2 separate regions of the Homo sapiens genome follow, and region 1 is linked to region 2. Evidence: fine-mapped expression QTL. A gene starts in region 2. The other region holds a variant in brackets. All regions are shown on one strand. Distances are between the middles of the regions. Region 1 holds the start of PRG2 (proteoglycan 2, pro eosinophil major basic protein). Region 2 holds the start of P2RX3 (purinergic receptor P2X 3).

The links.
Region 1: its variant is fine-mapped to the expression of P2RX3 in left ventricle (GTEx, PIP 0.92).

Annotation. Positions count from the first base shown.
Region 1 is chr11:57,389,932-57,399,555 of GRCh38, reverse strand. PRG2 (proteoglycan 2, pro eosinophil major basic protein) reads left to right here and starts at 8,906. Exons shown (of 6, transcript NM_002728.6): 1 at 8,906-8,960; 2 at 9,600-9,624. The coding sequence starts at 9,612. The variant C/A (reference allele first, on the strand shown) is at 4,665.
Region 2 is chr11:57,333,754-57,343,433 of GRCh38, reverse strand. It overlaps P2RX3 (purinergic receptor P2X 3), which reads right to left and starts at 5,082. Exons shown (of 12, transcript NM_002559.5): 1 at 4,765-5,082. The coding sequence starts at 4,883. SSRP1 (structure specific recognition protein 1) reads left to right here and starts at 7,542. Exons shown (of 17, transcript NM_003146.3): 1 at 7,542-7,704; 2 at 8,194-8,366; 3 at 8,786-8,971. The coding sequence starts at 8,313. RefSeq lists enhancers at 7,404-7,453, 8,304-8,373 and a silencer at 7,624-7,803.

The sequences.
Region 1 (9,624 bases), 56 kb before region 2:
ATCCGAGGACCACATTCTTTGTGCTTTCCAAATCATCACCTGCCCCATGCAACTTACAGGGTAAGTTACATTAAACAACGTATGTAAATGGCTTTGTGCTAGTTATTCACCACCACAGGGGAAGTGAGTCACGGACAAGAGTGCAGCCGCTCCATTCGGATCCTGGCTCTGACACTTACCTGGAAAATGACTTAACCATTCCCAGGATCAGCTGTTTGTCTGTAATTTAGGTAGTTTAATGGCACTTGTGTCCTAGAGTTGTTTAGAAGGTTGAATAATATGGAGCACTTAACATACTTAGCACCTAGAAACACTTCCTAAATATTAGTTGCTGCTGTTGTTATCGTTATTAAAATTTCTGCCTAAGATCTCATTTCAGGGAGCCCAACTCAATCTTTGACAAGCTTAAACAAAAATTGCTTTTCTTCATTTATTCACTTACACAGCAAACATGAATTGAGCCTGTACTGTGTTTCCAGAACTGTGCAGGACCAGAGAGGCACAGGTGAAGGAAGCAAGGCTCTGGCTCTACTGGGGAAACAGCAAGAAGATTGCTACAATGAGGTGGGAAGAGGGCTGGACTAGAGAGAAGCCCTGATTAGTGTCCTTGCTACCTTTCTCTGGGAGAGCCAAGGCAGGCTTCCTGGAAGAGGTGATCCTTGGCTGAAACTTCGATGAAGAAAAGGAAAGAGCGCAGTGGTTAGGGAGGAAAGGGCATTCTGGGCAGATGAAATGACATGTGACAAAATATGGGTGATCATGGCATGTTAGGAAAATAGCAGGGTGTTCAACATGATTGGAGCACTGTGTGTGTGTGGTGAGGGGGAGAATTGAGGTTGTCAAGAAGTGGTTCTCAACTGAGCATAGTTTTGCCTCAGAGGGGACATTTGGTAATGTCTGCAGACATTTTTTGATTGTCACAGCCCAGCCGAGAAGGTACTACTAGTATCTTTTTGGTAGAGGCTAGAGAGGCTGCTAAACATCTAACAATGCACAGGACAGGCCTCTGTAACAAAAAAGTATCCAGTCAAAAATGTCCACAGTGTTGAGAGGTTTAGGTAAGTAGGCGCTAAAACATAAGGAGACTGTGCCTGAGAGCAAGAAGGAGTAATTGGAAAGTGCTGGTGTGATTAGCTCTGGGTTTTAGAAAGCTCATTTTGGCTGCTTGTAGACAGTGCATCAGAGGTGGAGGAGGGTGGTAAGACTGGAGGCAGGGAAAGTAATTTGGGAGCCACTGAAATGATCCAGGTGAAAAACGGTCAGCAGGTGACTAGGAAAGTGGCAGAGGCAATGGGGATGGGTGGCTGGATGAGATGGTGAAGAAAGCACTATAACTAACTAATGTGTGGATGATGGGCAGGAGGGGTGAAGGATGACCAGAGTCCTGCCTTGCAGGTCTAGTTGGAAGGTGATGGTTTCTCCTGAGAAAGTGACCACAAAAAGTGAAGCAGGTTTGTGCGTGTGTGTGTGTGTGTGTGTGTGTGTGTGTTGAGTTCAGTCTGAGATGTGTTGGACTCACAATGTCCATGGGACATCCAAGTGGAGAAGCATCTTGGGTGACCATATGTGTGAGTCTGCAGCTCAGAAACAGGCCTGGGGCTGGAGATGAAGACTTGGGAATGATCTGCGTATATATTTGGTAGCTTGAGCCACAAGAGTAGATGACATAACCCGTGGTGGGTGTGCAGAATTAGGAGAGACGTGCACCAAGAAGCCAGGTGATCCCCAATATTTAACCATCTGGAAGAATAAGAGGAGCCTGCCAACAGAAATTGGGAGGGAATGGCCACAAAGGCTACTGAGAAGGGAAGCAGTTCTTAAGAAGGGGGAAGTGAAGAGGTATCACTACTGCAGAGGTCAAGTAGGATAAGAACTGAAGAATGTCTGTTGGGTTTGGCAATGGGGTAGTCAGTGGGCACCTGGGCAAAAGCAGTTTTGGTGGAGCAATAGGGATAACAGAAACAAGACTGCTATGGTAAGAGGAGGAAGAGGGTGTTGAGGAAGTGGCCAGCGAGTCTACACCACTTGCTGGAGGAGCTTGGCTTTGGTGCAAAGCAGAGAAGCCAGCTCACTCATTGACTTAACCTCCAAGAAACACAAAATCATCCATATCCTGGCTCAAATTCCAGCACTACCAGGAGATGGTTGGCCCCTAGAAATGCCATCCCACTTCTCCTCTGCTTATCCTATCCTATCTGTCAGTCTGTTGAGCCCAGGCTAAGCGCTACCTCCTCAAGCAAGCCTTCTCTGCCTGCCGTCACACTTTAAGTGATCCTGACAACACTGAAAATGTGTGTCTCTTCCATTCATGTTAGTTCTACACTTCTGAGTATCTCCTCAATATATTGCCTTGTTTTACTAATATGCTCGTTCTGTTTGCCTTATTTATCAGCTACCTTAAACCTCCCTGCAACTAGAGATTCTCTTTAAGTATTTGTTGAATAAATGAATGAATCAATCGATGATCCAGAGCCTGGTAGAGGCTTGTGTCCATGGTGGATGAGGCTCAGAAAATACCTGTAGAATCGAAATAAATGCATGTGTGCTCTGATCTAAACTCAGCTAAACTTTCTCCAGGGGGTAAAGTTCAAGTTGATTAGTCAATTGATTAATTAATTCATTATGTAATGGAAAAACTCCTTCTATGACCTGGGCAGAGTTATAGGCAGTGAACAAGACAGACAAGGTCCTTGTTGTCATGAAGTTTGCTTTCTGAAGGAGAGAGATAATAAACAAGAAACCAGTAAGAAAGCAAGATTATATCATTTTGGTAAATGTTCTTGTGGAAATAAATGTGATGATGTGTAACAAAAGTACCAAATAGGAGAGTGGGGTGGGTGGGCTTCTTTTAGAAAGAGTTCTCGGAGAAGGCTTATCTGAGGAGGTGGCCTTTTAACCAGTACAAATGCTTTAGCTTGGCCAGTGGAGCTGGGACCAGGATGACAAGGGTCACTTGTCATGCCAGTGAGTTTGAGCTTGTAGACAAGAGCCTGATCATGAAAGACTTTGCAGATGGTGGTAATGGGTTTGGGTTAATTGCTACTATGTGGGAAGACTTTGAATGGGAAGCATGGGGACAATGGCCTGTGATACATGTTATCAAATATGGTCGCAGGGGCTAGTGAGGTGGCAGCAGAGATAGGGAGAAGTAGACGGACTGGGGAAGGTAGAAGATGGGGCAGGGGAGGCAATTACTGCAAAGACATATTCCTTCTAAGCTCACTGAGTGTTCATGGTCTCTGGGAGCAGAGGTTCCTGGAGGGGAAAGAGGATAATGTCACTTCCTGAGGAAGCGGGAAGAACCCATCTGAGACGTGGGGACTGTGCTGGTTCGTTTCTAAGGGGCCTTCCAGATCTCACATGCCAATCGTCTTGGTCTATGTCAATTGTTGGGGCATCCAAATGGGGAACTGTTGTCCAGGCCGATTTCACAGAACAACCGCCCAGTCCATATCTCCCGAGCCATTCACCCTTGCAGTGGCGTTAGCTCTTTCACCAGCTTTTATCTGCCCCGTGGGGATGTTGGCCAAGCCCAGTTAACAAGCAGTTGATCAGCCCCAGAGATCAGGTCCCTGGAGTCTGTCACTTTTCTGAGGGTGGGGAGAGAATCCTGGAGCAGAACATGTAACTAGAAGGGCCACCTGGCTTCCTATGGTCTGAGGGAGAGAATGGTGGGATCTCTGGCCTGAATCAAACCTCCCTTTCTCAGTGTCCATCTTACCTCTCTGCTGTACCTTCGTTATTTTCCAGCAGCTCCTCAGCCCGTTCCTGTGGGACCCTTCTCTGCCAATCCCTACACCCACTGTAAATTTCACCGTGGGAGGGAGATGGGCCTTGAGGGCTGTATTAGTCTTCTATTCTGCATAACAAATTGCCTCAAATTTAGCAGCTTCAAACAACTCATGTTTATTAGCTCATCGTGAGTTCATCAGCAGTGTGGGCCCAGCATGGCTAGGTTTTCTGCTCAGGGTCTCACAAGGCTAAAATCAAGATGTTGTCTGGGCTGTGTGCTCATCTGGAGTTTAGGGTTCTCTTCCAGGCTCACGTGGTTGTGGCAGAATTCTGTTCCCTGGAGTTGCAGGGCTGAGGTCCTGTTTTCTTGCTGACTGTCAGATGAGGGCTGCTCTCAGGTCCTCGAGGCTGCCCACATTGCTTGCCACGTGCGTGGTCTTTTCCATCCTTGAAGCCAGTGATGGAGAATTTCCCTTGGATTGAATCACCCACATGGTTGGACTCTCTGACTTCAGGAAGAGAGCCCTGTCTCTTTTATGGGATCACCTGATTAGATCATACCCATAGAGGGCAGTTCCTTTTCCTTAAAGTCAACTGTGGCATGTAACATCACACAACCACAGGAGTAAAATCCATCATATTTACAGTCCCAGGGATTATGCACAGTGCACCAGGGGACAACTGAATTCTGCCTGTCAAAAGGGCCAAGCAGGACTTTATTGGTGAAGAACAGTGGAATGTCATTCTTGGTTCTTCCAGAAAAAAATCACTCAGTAAAGTTAGAGGTTCTCTTGCCTTTTGGGAAGTCATCAAAGAATCTCATGGAGGGTTTGGACCTTCACCCTAGAAACATCACACCATGTTTTCTATAATTGCAGGGTTCATGGTCCCTTGAAGCCTATTCATAGTTTCCAGGTTGAAAAGCTCTGCTG[C/A]AGGGTGTGGGGAGGGATGCAGGTGGAGGTGAGGGCTGAATAGTGTGAGCTGCATATCTGGAGCTGTGGTGGTTTTTTTAGTCTTTAAGCTGTCATGTGTTGGGGGTTGGGCATGGGAGGGGCATCCCAAGAGCTCCTTGGTATTGACACCATCTCCAAGGTGATCTCTGCTCTGCCTGGTGCACACATGTTTTTCTCCTGTTGCAACAGCCCACTCTTGTAGAAGAGCAGACCCCTCAGTACCAGGTCTGACCCTGGACAGCTTGTACCAGGAGCTACAGCACACTCCCCCACAAGCCTAAAGTTGGGATGAGCCCCCCGAGAATTAGATCAGAAAAGATTAAATGCAGAGGTGATCTGTCAGGTCCCCTTTGGAAGTGCTGGTATGGAGAGGATTGACTGAGTCTGTTTAGGAACCTCCAAGCTCTGTAGTAACTTTAGGGCTAGAAAGGAGGATGCCTAAGATTCAGGATCCTGCAGTGATGAGTCAACATTTCTTGGGGAAGGAGGCAGGGCTGAGGATTAAACGGAGATGATGGGTATCGTTCTCTTGCTCAAAGGCACTGGACCCCAAGGCCTCCAGCTCTTCGCTCCCATTTGAAATTCAAGTCCTGAGCACACCACAGTTGTGATGCAGGGAAAGAATGTGCTTATCAGAGAGCCTGGGCAAGTGGGCCCCTTGTGAGTACCGTTCAACCTCATTTATGTCATTGGCACCAAAAGTAGACATCAGTCTCTTGAAAGTTTGATTAATGCTGGTCACACTCAAAGACCCTGGGTAGCATTCATTTACTAAGCAATTACTAAATACCAGTTTCTGTGCTAAATGCTGCATCAGTCAGGGCTCTTAATGGCAGGCAGCAGAAACTCTCCTTGGCTGATCTAAGTAGAAAAATCCAGGACTGAAAGGAAACGGAGTAGCTCATGAAATTGCAGGAAGGGCCGGAAAACCAGACATGGAGCCAAAGTCAGGCTGCAGAACAGGTCTAGGGAGGATCCCACTGCTGCTGAGACCTAGACCTTGTGTCTGGCACCCAGGATGTTGTAGGGCTCAGACCCTGGATCAATGTATCCTGCAGTGCCTCTGTGGGTACTGCAACTCCAGGAACTCAATCTTGTCAACGCCACCGCCAGAGAGAGGCCTTCTTGGCCTCCATCTTTTTGGTCACTAGCTCCAGATTCAAAATCTTGAATAGATGCTTCTTCTCTTTGATAGAGCCCAGTCATATGCGTTAGCTGCAAAGGAAGCTGAAAATCTATTAGGAACTTTTGTCTTCAAAAATGAGAGGCCTGTCCTCCACCAAGATCCATAGGAAATGGAATCCAAGAAACCACAGGAAGGGGTGAGGTGACTGGGCAGCTCACAGCATGCATGCTACATGTGAATTATCTCATTCATTTCTCACACTACCCAGTGAGGTAGGTATTGTCATCCCTACTTCATAAATGATGATATGAGGTACAGAAAGTTTAAGGAACTTGCCCAGGACACGACACGCAGCTATTAAGTGCTAGACCCAGTCAATTTGAGTCTGACTTGGACTGTCTGACTCCAGAAGCCACCCTCTCAGACACTGCTGTATACTTCCAGTGAATGTTGATGAAATTTTCAGGGTTGCTAAGCTGTGGATTTCAGATCCTGGATTGTATGACCTAAAAGAGAGACTTCCCTAGGAGTGAGGGTCCCTGAACAGTCAACTGGTTTCCAAGAATGGGCTCCCTCTCATCACCTTATGACAGTAATCCTCTGTCCAACAGCCAAAGAGGTCCTGTGGGGAGGGCTTGCAGATGGGAGTGCGCAGAGCCCAGCTCAAAGCTCCTGACTAGGCTCTTGTTGAGTATTCCTTTGATTCCTGCTTCTGTCTTTTTAAATCAATGGAGACAGGGGAGGGTTATCTCCATCCTCGGCTCAAGATGAAATGCATCGTTCCTCGTTTTTCTCATTCCTTCCCAATGTGTGTACTGTTAACTTTAGTTATGAAGGAAATTACAGTGTCCTGTGCATATACCAAGGCTGTCCAACCTCCACACCTTTGCTCAAGCTGTTCCTTCTACTTGAAATGCCTGTTTCCTTCCCTTCTAATTGCATCTTTCCATCCAGGTAGGAATCAGCTCCTTGGTTCATGGAGCCTTTTCTGCTCTGTTTTACTATGCATGGACTTCCTTCTGAATTAGCAGAGGATGTTTCCTAGCTTGGTCTTAACCCTTCTCCTTTTGTTTGACCTCAATTTACTCATCTTACAAATTAGGTTGTAAGCTAATTGAATACAGGATCTATGCTTCACTCTGATTTTATCTCCACCTGGATAGCATCATTTTTGACACACAAGCAGGCATATGGGAGGGGAGAGAAGTTTGGTGCCAGAAAGAACTGGATTTGAATTCTAACCCTGTTGTTTACGTGAGTACGTTACTTAACCATTAATTACTTCAATGTATATTTATTAAGTACCTACTATGTGCCGGGCACTGTACTAAGCACCAAGGATACAATGGTGAGTAAAGAGATGCAGCCTTCACCATCACGAAGGAAGACAGATGTTAATCCATTAACCAAGTAATCTCACAAGAAAAGTAAAATGACTAACTGATAAGGACAAGCCCCTGGAGCTACAAGAGGGTGTATACAGGGCATCGATCCAATAAGGGCAGTGTTGCGGGGAGATCAGGAGCCACACAGAGCCTGGGTTGTCTCACTTGGAAAATGGGGTATCAACCACCTACCTCACTAGGTTTTTAAAATCAGGTTAAATGAGGTAATACTTGCCATGAACAGTATTTTGTTGATTGATGATTGATTGAAACGGAGTCTCACTCTCTCGCCCAAGCTGGAGTGCAGTGGTGCAATCTCAGCTCACTGCAACCTCTACTTCCTGGGTTCAAGTGATTCTCCTGCCTCAGACTCCCAAGTAGCTGGGATTACAGGCAGCCACCCCTATGCCTGACTAATTTTTGTATTTTTAGTAGAGACAAGGCTTTGCAATGTTGACCAGGCTGGTCTCAACCTCCTGACCTCAAAAGATCCACCCACCTCAGCCTCCCAAAGTGCTGGGATCACAGGCATGAGCCACTGCATCCAGCCACTTGCCATGCATGGCATTTAAAAATGTTCAGTAAATGTTACCATAATGAAGGCTGGTAGGTTGGCCAACTGAGTGGTCTGATTCAGAAGGAAAGAAGTTAGACATACGTGAACATTTCCTGTACTTGAAGATCCTCAGGACAGTGACTCCTAGACCCATCTTCCATCACAGTCAGCTGGGAAGCTTTTAAAAAAATGCAGACATCTGACCTTCACGCTAGACCTATTAGCCAAGCAGAAGTTTCTGGGCAGGGCATCTGCATATTTTTAAAAATCTTTAATAAGGCAGCCTCAAAATTACAGATTCAGCACGCATTTACCATAACCACTGAAGAAATGCAAAGTTATAAAAAGAAGATAAACAACAATCTGTCTCCTGCTTTCTTCCCTCTCCTCCCCTGCTTCTGGAGGCAACAAGGTCAACTATTTGGTGTGATTCCTTTTAGCATTCCCTCCATCAATGGTCACATAAGGATGCTCACAGATAAGCACCTATGCGGGGGTTTTTTTTTTCCTTGTAAAACTATTCACATACTAAATACTTTCCTCAGTATCTTGCCTTTTTTCACTTCATGTCACAGAAACATCTCTTCAGGTTTATAGATACAGGTCCAGCTCTTCTTTTCATAGCCATATAACATTCTGTAGAATAGAGAGGACACATTTTACTCAGTGTCCGATTGATGGATATCAATATTGTTTTCATTTCTACAAATAGTCAAGGAATAACATAACTCTGTAAAAGTTTTATTACTTATAGGCGCATTTATGCCTAAAGGATAGTCTCAAAAGAGTGAAACTGATCAAATGTGCATTTTTTTATTTTAATAGGTATGGACAGATTTGTTCTCAAAATGTTTGTGGCAGTTCAAAACACCAGTAAAACAGGGGAGATATGTATTTTGGAAAAGCACCCAAGGCGATTCTGAAGTGTAGCCCAGGATAAGAACCATTGCCCAGAGCTGTTCCAGATGGCCCCTGGGTTCCTGAAGTGGGTATCGGGAGAGAAATCTTCACTGAATGAATGAGTGGGCTCCCCAGGGAAGTGATGAAATGGTCCTTATCAGCCTTGCTATCTCCCTCTGACAGAGGCAAACTCTCTCTCCCTGGGGGAAGTTCCTCCAAGGCCTCTATATAAGAAGTCTTTGTGAGAGGAAGCAAAGAAGGACCTGGGCTTTGGGAAGATCTAAAGACCCAGGAAGGTCTCTGGGTGGGTGAGTGCTTTCTCTGCTGTGGTGGAGCTGGTGACAGTTTATTCTCCCAGGAGGTCCCTGGCTGTGGCTGACAGTTTCTGGAGGGCTGGCAGGCGTCTACCTGTGGCTTTCAGGTTATGAGGATGTCAGCAGGGGCAGCCTTCATCCTCTGCCTTGCACATTCCTTCTGCGGGATGTGAAAGTGCTCCTTGGCTGGGGAAAGGAGATGGTGGAGACATGGAGGAGGGTGTGGGTGGCTTCTTGAACTCTGAGGAGGGGACATACCTTCTAAGTCCTATGTGTTCCTAGGAAAGCCAATAATCATTGCTTCTCCCGCCTTTTTTATGTCATAGACTCTGAGGGACCCATTAAGTACAAACAAATAAGCGTAATAGTCCCTTCTTTACTTCCGGGCCTGAAGGAAAGCCAGCCTCAGCCACCCCTCAGGGTTTGCTGCGTTCTGTTTAGAAAGAGGTCCTTGCGTCCTGGATCCTGGAGCATCAGGAGCTGGGCTTGGCATGAGCTTTTCTGGCCCATCCTGATTTCTATTCAGGCCTTCTTTTTCTCCACCTCACTCCCACGGTCCCCTAATGGTGTGATTGTGATGTGTGTGCATGTGTGTCTGTGTGTGTCAATGACAAACTGTGTTCTCCGTTGCAGGATAAAGCCAAGATGAAACTCCCCT
Region 2 (9,680 bases):
CTAGCTGTGTCCCAGCTCAAAGCCAGGCCATGCTGGCCCCCTGAACCGGACCCTGTGCTTTTCCTACCAGCTCCTGCTCCATCACCAGTGAAAGCATCTCCTGGCTTAGGAAAGTCTCAGGAGGAAAGGGCCGAGGACTCCAAGGAACAATCAACCAATCTCCTACCTCCTCCTCCTCCTCCTTCAAGGCTCCTTCTTGTGCCCAGTGGGGTGGAGAGGCCACATTAGAATTCTCTCTCTGACTTAAATAACAAGTGGAAGAATTTCAATGGCCTCACAGGGCCTCGGGATGTCATCAAGGCAGCTAGAAAGAAGGGGATGCTTCATTTCCAGAACGGAGGGGCTGAGGCTGTCTCTGGAGGCCAGGGCTCAGGAGCTAGGGCAGGCCTGAGCCTTCGATTCTTGGCATTTACTCTGCTGCTCTGACTATTTTCTTCTCGCATTCATGGTTTATTATTTATAGAGCGGAAGGCGTGTGGCAGCTCCTTGGCAGGTGGGATGTGCAGGAGAGAGGCCAGAGCCGCGCCCCAGCACCCTCCCATCCGCCCCCAGGGAGCCAAGGAGGAGGCTGGGGAGTGGGTGTGAAGAGTGCACGCTGTGTGTGTGGGAGGAGGAGAGGGGTCTCTTAGGAAGGTGTGAGCTGGGCAGAGGGAAAGGGGGAGGGGTGATGGGGGGGTCTTTGTGAAGTAGTCGCAGTTGCCATCTATTACTGAGTCACCATCTCCGCAAGGCACTTGACATATGTTACCTCCCCTCCCTATAACTCCCAGGGAGGAGGTATTCCTAAATCCATTTTCCAGATATGGGGACTGAGACTTAGAGATGTAAAGTCACTCTTAGGAGGCCCTCTCCTAGTTGGTGTCAGAGCCAGGCTTCTAACCAAGTGCTCTACGTTCCATATTGGGGGAGAGGGCAGGCAGGAATGAGAGTCACTCCTCTCTCTGGACCAGGATGACTGGTCCAGATGGGGCATCCAGCCAGGCATGGTGACTCATGTTGTAATCCCTGCACTTTGGGAGGCCGAGGCAGGTGGATCACTTGAGGTCAGGAGTTCGAGACCAGCCTGGCCAACATGGTGAAACCCCATCTCTACTAAAAATACAAAAATTAGCCGGGCGTCGTGGCACAGGCCTGTAATCCCAGCTACCGGGGAGGCTGAGGCAGGAGAGTCGCTTCAACCCAGGAGGCGGAGGTTGCAGTGAGTCGAGATTGCACCACTGCACTCCGGCCTGAGGGACAGAGCAAGGCTCCGTCTCAAAAAAAAAAAAAAAAAAAAAAAAAAAAAGATGGGGCAGCCCAACAGTTCTTCCCACCATAACAGCTCTTTCCACCATATCTGTCACTTAATTGTGCTGACAAGGTGCCTCACAGTGATACCCTGGGCTGAGAGGATGGAGTGGAGAGCCAAGAAGGCAGGATTCTAGACCCTTCTCTTTAAACCAGAGCAGCTCCTCCCTTTCACCTGCTTTATGTATTGAACTCCCACCTAAGATCTGAAATGAGGCTGAATTTTATGAACCAAAGCATGGGGCTGTACAGATGGCAAGTTTGTGGACTGGGTCTTGTATGGGGGAGGAACAGGGCAGGTAGGGCAGGGCTGTGGTGGGGTCAGAGGCTCCAGCAGCCACCAGTGACCCTTCAGCACAATGGGGCATCAAAGGCCTGGGAAGTCCCTGGCCTCCTAGTTTGCAAGGAGGCAGCTTCCTCCAGGAAGGCCCTGGAAATCAACCTCAGGCCAAGCACAGGCTATTGCTTCCAGGGACTCAGATCCTAGGGATTTCCTTCAACTTCTCAGGTCCCCAAAGGATCCAGAACGGGGATGGGCTCTCGGGAAGTCCCACTCCACAGAGGTGAGTGGGGATTACCACGTGGACCCAGAAAAGATGTGAGAAACATCAGGTAAGTCCAGGCCTCTCTGTGTGCCCTGGAGTGGGTAAAGGAAAATAGTGATGAAATGGTGTCAACCACAGACAAGCAGCTGAGGCCAGGGGCGGGGGTGAGAGCGTATGTGAGATGACCAGGTGGTGTGTTGCTGAGAAGTTCTCAGAGAAATGATGGACTCATGTTAGGCAGAGTCTAGGTTGTTGACCTGGTTGGGATGATGGGGAAGAGATTGAAGTATCAGTGAAATATTAACACTATAGCCTTAAAAATCCCTTCAAATTCGATTGGGTCCAAGCCACTGTCACCTCTCTGCATAAACTGCCTCTTAGCAGGTTTTCCTGCACCCACTCCTACTCCTTCCACTTCCAGGGAATCAGCCCAGGTGCTCTTCCCAACTCAGATCTCATCGTGTCTGTCTCTCTCTCTCTCAAACTCACGTGCACACACACACAAAAGTGCACACAGACACACGGGTTAAAATGCTTCCATGGCTTCTGTTTATTCATCTCCTGTAAAAACAAAAGCTCTCTAAGGGTGTCTGAGGTCCGGCCTCTGTGTGTGTTCCCATCCACCGTACACCACCCTCACTCATCTCTGCTCCCTCGGCTCCAGCCACAATGACCTTCTTTTCTTTCCCCTGTTTGCCAGCCTCCTTCCCTTTGCAGAGGTGGGTTTCTCTGCCCTGAACTCTCTTCCTTCCCTCTTTCACCTGGGCTGCTCTTACTCATCCTTCGGGTCTTGGCTAAAATGTCACATCTCCAGAAAACCTTCCCTTACTCCCTGACTGGGCCAAACACCTTCACAGAAGCGGCTCTCTATAACTGTGCACCTCTAAGCCACAGTTGACATTTCACGTTTGTGGAGATCATCAGATGAATGCCATCTCTTGCCTTCCGCTGTAAGCCCCAGGAGGGCGAGGACCCTGTCTGCTTTTGCCCACCATTCCGTCCTCAATCCACAGTGCCTGGCATGCAGAGATGCTGGTACATTTTTGCTAAATTAATGACGGTGGACTCATGAAGTCACAACGTGCATGGGTTCACATACACGGAGATGGGACTCAGGTCAGGGGGCTGGGCTGCAGAGGGCGCTGATGTAACTGGAAGGCAGTGTCCCGTGGGGAGCTGTCAGGCTAGGAGATGGATGGGGTTGGAAATTAAGATGCTAAAGAGCTTCGCACACTCGCTCCAGCAGGCTGGGCTCCAGCCCTGAGGACTGGAGGATTCTATCTGATCATGATGAGACAGAGACAAGGGCAGTGGGGGCTGAGCGGGCTGGTCTAGGAGCCCACTCTCTCCCCCATCAATCTCTGCCTGGAGCCAGTGGAGCCAGGCCAGAAGGGGAATGTGCTGAGCCAGATTTTGCACTCACCTGGGCCAACATACCATCTTGTGGCTATAAACAACCACAGCATTGAATATACACGTGAACACAGAACATTTAGGAACCAACTTTGAGCCAAGCTCTAGAGATGCAGACAGCGAACATTTGCAAACCTCGTATCTCACAAAACCTCAACATTGGAAGGGAACTTTGTGGCCATTTAATGCTATTCCAAAGCTTGAATCCCTTTTCTAAAATCTCCCAAAGGAGCACTGGATGGTACAGCCTTTTTACAATACCTGCCCACTGAAGCCTACCAGGGCTTGCCCAGCACACAGAGCAAAAAATCACCTAAAAAGTCACATCTAGCCACCTTTCCCTCCACACCCTCGCATAAACTTCAACATTTCAAGCAAGCAGGTTTGCATGCAGCTTCAGCCCACAGGCACACAGGATTCTCCTTTGACCTGCTTGAACTAACTCCTGACAGTCAGTGGATTGCTGCCTCAAATGCAAAGACCCATTGTCTGAAAGAACAGCATAAGATTGGAGACCCGCATGCCAGGAAAGAAAACCTTCGAGGTTTCTGCCTGTATTTCCTGGTGCCCACCAGTGTGTGGAAATGACCACAAGAAGGACAGGACCTGCATTCTTCCCCAGCCATTGTCTGCTCCACAGCCCTTTGTGTGCGTGTGTGTGTGTGTGTGTAGGTGTGTGCTTGCAGGCGGTGGGGGCTGAGGGGATGGTTGCACCTTCCTGGCTCTTAAGCAACTCCTAGGATGGGTTACATGGCACAGGGTCAGGGAGAGGTAGGGAACTTACACTTTTTGACAAAGGGGAGCATTTCTGGATTCCTGGGGAGGGAGCGGCACTATGTTCAGAAAAGCTCCTTTTCTCCTTGGCCACTCTTCCCTTGGGCCTCTGTTTGTTTCCTCATCAAGGGGCAGTTCCCTCTTTGTCCTCCCCTTCAAGAGCAGAGGGCTTCTCCCTTGCCCTTCTCTCTCTCACCATCTCACCCATCCATGCCAGAAGGAAATTCCTCATTCTAAAACAGATCCAGTTCTCTCTTTCCCTCCCGGCCACCAACTTGATCAACCTGCCACCACCCCCTTGTCTCAGTGCCTTCCCTTCCCTATTCCTGTGCTGTCTTGTCTTTTTGAGACCCCGAAGACTTGACTGAGGGGAATTCGAAGATGTGGGAGGGGGTCTGCCTGTTCTCTTGTTGGGGAGATGAGAGCAGGGAGGGTGGAGATGGAGCTCCTGAGCCCTCCCTCGGTGGAGGGCAGTGCCGGGGCAGGGACCCTACTACTCCGAGCGTGTGTCTTGAAACCAATCTCAACCCTGGAGGACGAACTGGGAAAAGAATTCACCTGGGTGAATTTAGGCCCTAGGTGGGGGTGGCAGAGGCCAGTCTTTAAGACTCGGCTCCACAGAAGAAACTGTTTCCCCCAGGAGCAGAGGAGCTCAGGAAGCTGGATGGTAGCACCGAGGCAGGAGGGTGAAGACGGGATACCAGGCAGCCCACCCCGCCAGGAACCTGAAAGGCCACAGACTCACCCTACAAAGTAGGAGATGATCAGAAGCTGAACTACTCGGTTGATGATCCCGATGGTCCAGCTCTTCACAACCACCGACTTGGTGGTCTCATAGGTGAAGAAGTCGGATATGCAGTTCATGCTGAGAGAGTGCTCAGGGGACACTCAGAAGGGGGCCCAGTGGTGGCCTCAGGAGAGGGAGGTCCTACAGGACAGGGAGACGAGATCACGACCTGGAGGGGGCAGCTTAGAGGGGTTGGAGGAATGGGGAGCCTGTCCCTTTAAGCCATGCAATCCTAGTGAGATTCTCTGCTCTTGATACTCTGGCTTCCAAGAGGCCAGGACCAGGGCGGGGGACCCCCTTTTTGTTCGTCTCCACTCCACTCCCCTGTGATGTCACAGCAGGGGTGGGGTCTCCAATCCTGGGCTCCTGATTGCCTGGGATGTAGCTGGCTGGAGCCCTCTGGGACTAATGTTTTATCTGCACTCTGTCTACTGTTTCTGTTCTGTTCTCTTCTGCAGCATCCTCATCCCAGCTCACCAGCTGCTCACACTCTCCCTAAAGCCCCTTGCAATTTCCCATCCCCCAGTCACCTAATAGCCTGCCTGAGCTAAGGACCCTCTTCATTCCTGAGTGTCTGCCAAATTCCACCCAGTTCTGCGCCGTCCCCTCCTTTCCTGAGTTGCCCCCAGTGGCATGGGTCAGGGGGAAAAGGTCTCTTGAAAGTTTTTCTGGGTCTTCTGGGGTGTGATGAGTAAAGAGTCACATATTTCTAACTCCAGCTGGTAATGAGCTTCGCTCTACCTGTAGCATAGCAGTTAGCACGTCTTTTTTGTTTTGTTTTCTTTTTATTATTATTCTTATACTCTAAGTTCTATGGTAAACCTGCACAACGTGCAGGTTTGTTACATATGTATACGTGTGCCATGTTGGTGTGTTGCACCCGTTAACTGTAAATATACCCGTCATTTACATTAGGTATATCTCCTAATGCTATCCCTCCCCACTCCGCCCACCCCGCGACAGGCCCTGGTGTGTGTGATGTTCCCCACCCTGTGTCCAAGTGTTCTCATTGTTCAATTCCCACCTATGAGTGAGAATATGCGGTGTTTGGTTTTCTGTCCTTGTGATAATTTGCTCAGAATGATGGAGTCCAGCTTCATCCATGTCCCTGCAAAGGACATGAACTCATCCTGTTTTACAGCTGCATAGTATTCCACGGTGTATATGTGCCAACTTCTTTTTTTTTTAACTGTCACTTTATTTATTAAAGTCATTTGTTAGATTATGTTTTCCTGAAAGGTTGGGGCTGGGTTTTTTTTTCTGTTTTTTTTTTTTTTCTTTCTTTCCTTCCCTTCCTTTTTTTTTTCTTTTTCTTTCTTTCTTTTTTTTTTTTTTTTTGACAGAGTCTCGCTCTGTCACCCGGGCTGGAGTGCAGTGGCACAATCTCAGCTCACTGCAACCTCTGCCTCCTGGGTTCAAGCAATTCTCATGCCTCAGCCTCCTGAGTAGCTGGGATTATAGGCACCCGCCACCACGCCTGGCTAATTTTTGTATTTTTAATAGAGACGGGGCTTCACCACGTTGGCCAGTCTGGTCTCAAACTCCTGACCTCAAGTGATCTCCCTGCCTTGGCCTCCCCAAGTGCTAGGATTACAGGTGTGAGCCACCGTGCCTGGCCGGGGATGTTTTCACCTTGTTCAAGTTTCCTCAAATCTGAGAAGTGTGCTAAAGTAGTAATAGGCCCTCAATATCTATTTATTAAACCCAGTTGAATTTATTTTGCTAGATAATGCTGGAATAGCCACTACTCAGAGGTTAAAGCTATGAGTTCAGGGGAGAAGGGTGCATTCCTGTTGTCTCTTACCCCAGGATTGATTTAGCAAGCTGGTGTATTGATTGTCAGGGAAATCTTGAGCTTACATATTCTGTACTAATGTCTTCATGTAGGACACATATCAATAGTCATTCTGAACATACAGTCACTGTGATTATGACAGAAGATAACTGGACTGGTGGTGTTAAGGAGGTCTGGGTCCTACCTAGCCTTGTTGCCAACGCACTGAGACCCTGGGCAACTCACTCCCCTTTGGGTCTCAGTTTTCCCATCAGTAAAAGGAGGTTGGGGTAGAAAAACTAAAACATCTTTTCCAGGTCTGGTCTCTGATGTTGCAAAATGCACTCTGGGATTATACGGGGGAGACCTGGCTTCCGCAACCACAGGATGATGTGGTTTCAAATCAGTTCTGGCTCCAAGGTGAATCTGACACCAGGACTTGAACTGGATAAGGCCGTTTGCCAGCCTCTTGGAGGTACCTATAATTTTCGGTTAAGGATGTGAAAATTTTGGGTGTAGACAGTGAACTTGACAGTTCAGCCAGAAAGCAGTGCACCCACGATGACACCAACACCCGCATACTCTCCGCAGCCAGTGGGAGAGGTCGTTTCCTCCCACAACTGTTCAAATACTTCTCTTCTTGTCCCATCGACTCCTTTCCATGACATAGAAACTATTTTGCAGAGAAACGGGCACGCATCATTCCAATACACACCCCCACCCCACCCCTGTACTAAGTCTGATACAATAAAACTACACAATTTCTCTTTAGTATCTAGTCTCGACTGAAGAAGTGTCTGTAGTTTCTAAAGAGCCCTACACACATTTTCTAGGCCGGATTCCCCCTGGGTGAGAGAGGCTTCACGGCAACCACCCTTCCCTCAGGTCCTCCAGAGTCGCTGACGCTCTATGCGACTGTCTCGCAGGCGGGCCCGACTCGCGTCTCTCTAGCCAGCTCATCCTCTCTGTGGCCTGTGTACGGCTTCCGGTGGCGGGACGCGGGGCCGCGCACGCGGGAAAAGCTTCCCCGGTGTCCCCCCATCCCCCTCCCCGCGCCCCCCCCGCGTCCCCCCAGCGCGCCCACCTCTCGCGCCGGGGCCCTCGCGAGGCCGCAGCCTGAGGAGGTAGGTGGTGGTCGTCCCCGGTCCCAGGAAGGCAGGGGCCCCGCTCCCCCACGGGACCCTCGACATGGACCATTCCGCGTTCGCAACCGCGGGGAGCGGGCGAATCCATTATGTGGGGCGGGGGTGAACCGTGGGTCTGGGGCCGCGGGGTGGTGGGAGCGGTGCGAGGGAAACCCTGCACTCTGAGCTGGATTGGGTCGCGTGCGATGTGCGGGCTCCTGGCAGACCCTGGGGTTCCGCTGCTCGTTGCCATGGCTCCCGCCGGAGCGGCCAGAGCGGGCGTCGGGTTGGGTGTCAGCGGTATTCCGGGCCCGGTTCTCCACCCAGGCCTGGACCTGGACCCTCGGGCACTGCAGCGTCCGTCTGTAGGTTTCCAGGCAGAGGAAATCCTGAGACATCCAGGCGCAGCTGGGAGTTGCTACCTGGCTCCATCCGTGAGCACAGCGAGGTGCTGTCTTTCATGCTTATCTGTCTTCCTCTTGAATTCAGATTCCCAACCTGCTGAGCATCCGCACACCCACTCAGGAGTTGGGGCCCAGCTCCCAGTTTACTTGGTTTCCCTTGTGCAGCCTGGGGCTCTGCCCAGGCCACCACAGGCAGGGGTCGACATGGCAGAGACACTGGAGTTCAACGACGTCTATCAGGAGGTGAAAGGTTCCATGGTGAGAATGGCTTGGACAGGTGATACAAGTAGAGAGAAGGAAGGAGGGTAGAGTTTTTGTCCATTAATGAGAGCTTGCTTTGGTAACGTTATTTTGGAAAAAGAAGACTCAGTATAATGTGTACCTAGTGTCTCCACCAACTCAAGGCAATACTGAGAGATAGTCTCAGAGTTATAGGGACCGTATATGCTGTTCAGTTCCCAATTCCTGTTTTACAAATGAGGAAACTGAGAATCTGTTAAGGGTTCTAGATACCAGAGTCTGGTTTAGAATCTAGACTCCTTGGCACCCTCAGCTGTTGCTCCTGCATTGATAATCTGGCCAGTCCACTTGCAGCAGGAATGTGTGTTAGGTAGAGCTGTAGAACCCAGGACATGCTGTGTACTGTCTCCATGCATCTGGGCCTGCTTTTCTTACAGAATGATGGTCGACTGAGGTTGAGCCGTCAGGGCATCATCTTCAAGAATAGCAAGACAGGCAAAGTGGACAACATCCAGGCTGGGGAGTTAACAGAAGGTATCTGGCGCCGTGTTGCTCTGGGCCATGGACTTAAACTGCTTACAAAGAATGGCCATGTCTACAAGTATGATGGCTTCCGAGAATCGGTGAGATGTCCCATGGCTATAAGCCTCCTTTTTACTGCATCTTCTTATTTTAATCTTCTAGAGACTCGAGGTTCCTTCCTCATGTAACCCTGTGATTGCTAGTTTGGGCTCCTTAGAGCAGGGCTGTGAGGCCATCAGGCAATCAGTGTTTGGCTTTGAGCGTTGAAGTCTTGTGAATTTCTGTGTGCCTTGACTCCAGAAGATTTTCTTCTGTCTTGATTTAGATAGTAGTTTCTGCCTGTGGCTTTTATCAAGGTTCAGAATCTTAGCTTGATTTCTTTGTGTGTATGTGTGTTTTTGGTTTTTTTTGGGGACAGGGCCTTGCTCTGTCACCCAGGCTGGAGTGCAGTGGCGCAATCTCGGATTACTGCAGCCTCCGCCTCCTGGGCTCAAGTAATCCTTCCATCTCAGCCTCCTGAGTATCTGGTACCACAGGCACATGCCACCATGCCCAGCTGATTTTTAATAATTTTTGGTAGAAACGGCGTTTTGCCACATTACCCAGTCTGGTCTTGAGCTCTCAGACTCAAGGGATCGCCCACCTTGGCCTCCCAAAGGGTTGAGATTACAGGCGTGAGCCATTGCGCCTGGCTAGCTTGATATCTTAAAGTGTGGGTTTTGTTTTCCTTTTTGAACTGCTTGAGTTAAAGGCTTTATTTGATTTTAATTTCCACTTTCATTAAAGTAATACCTATACAAAGTTTATAAA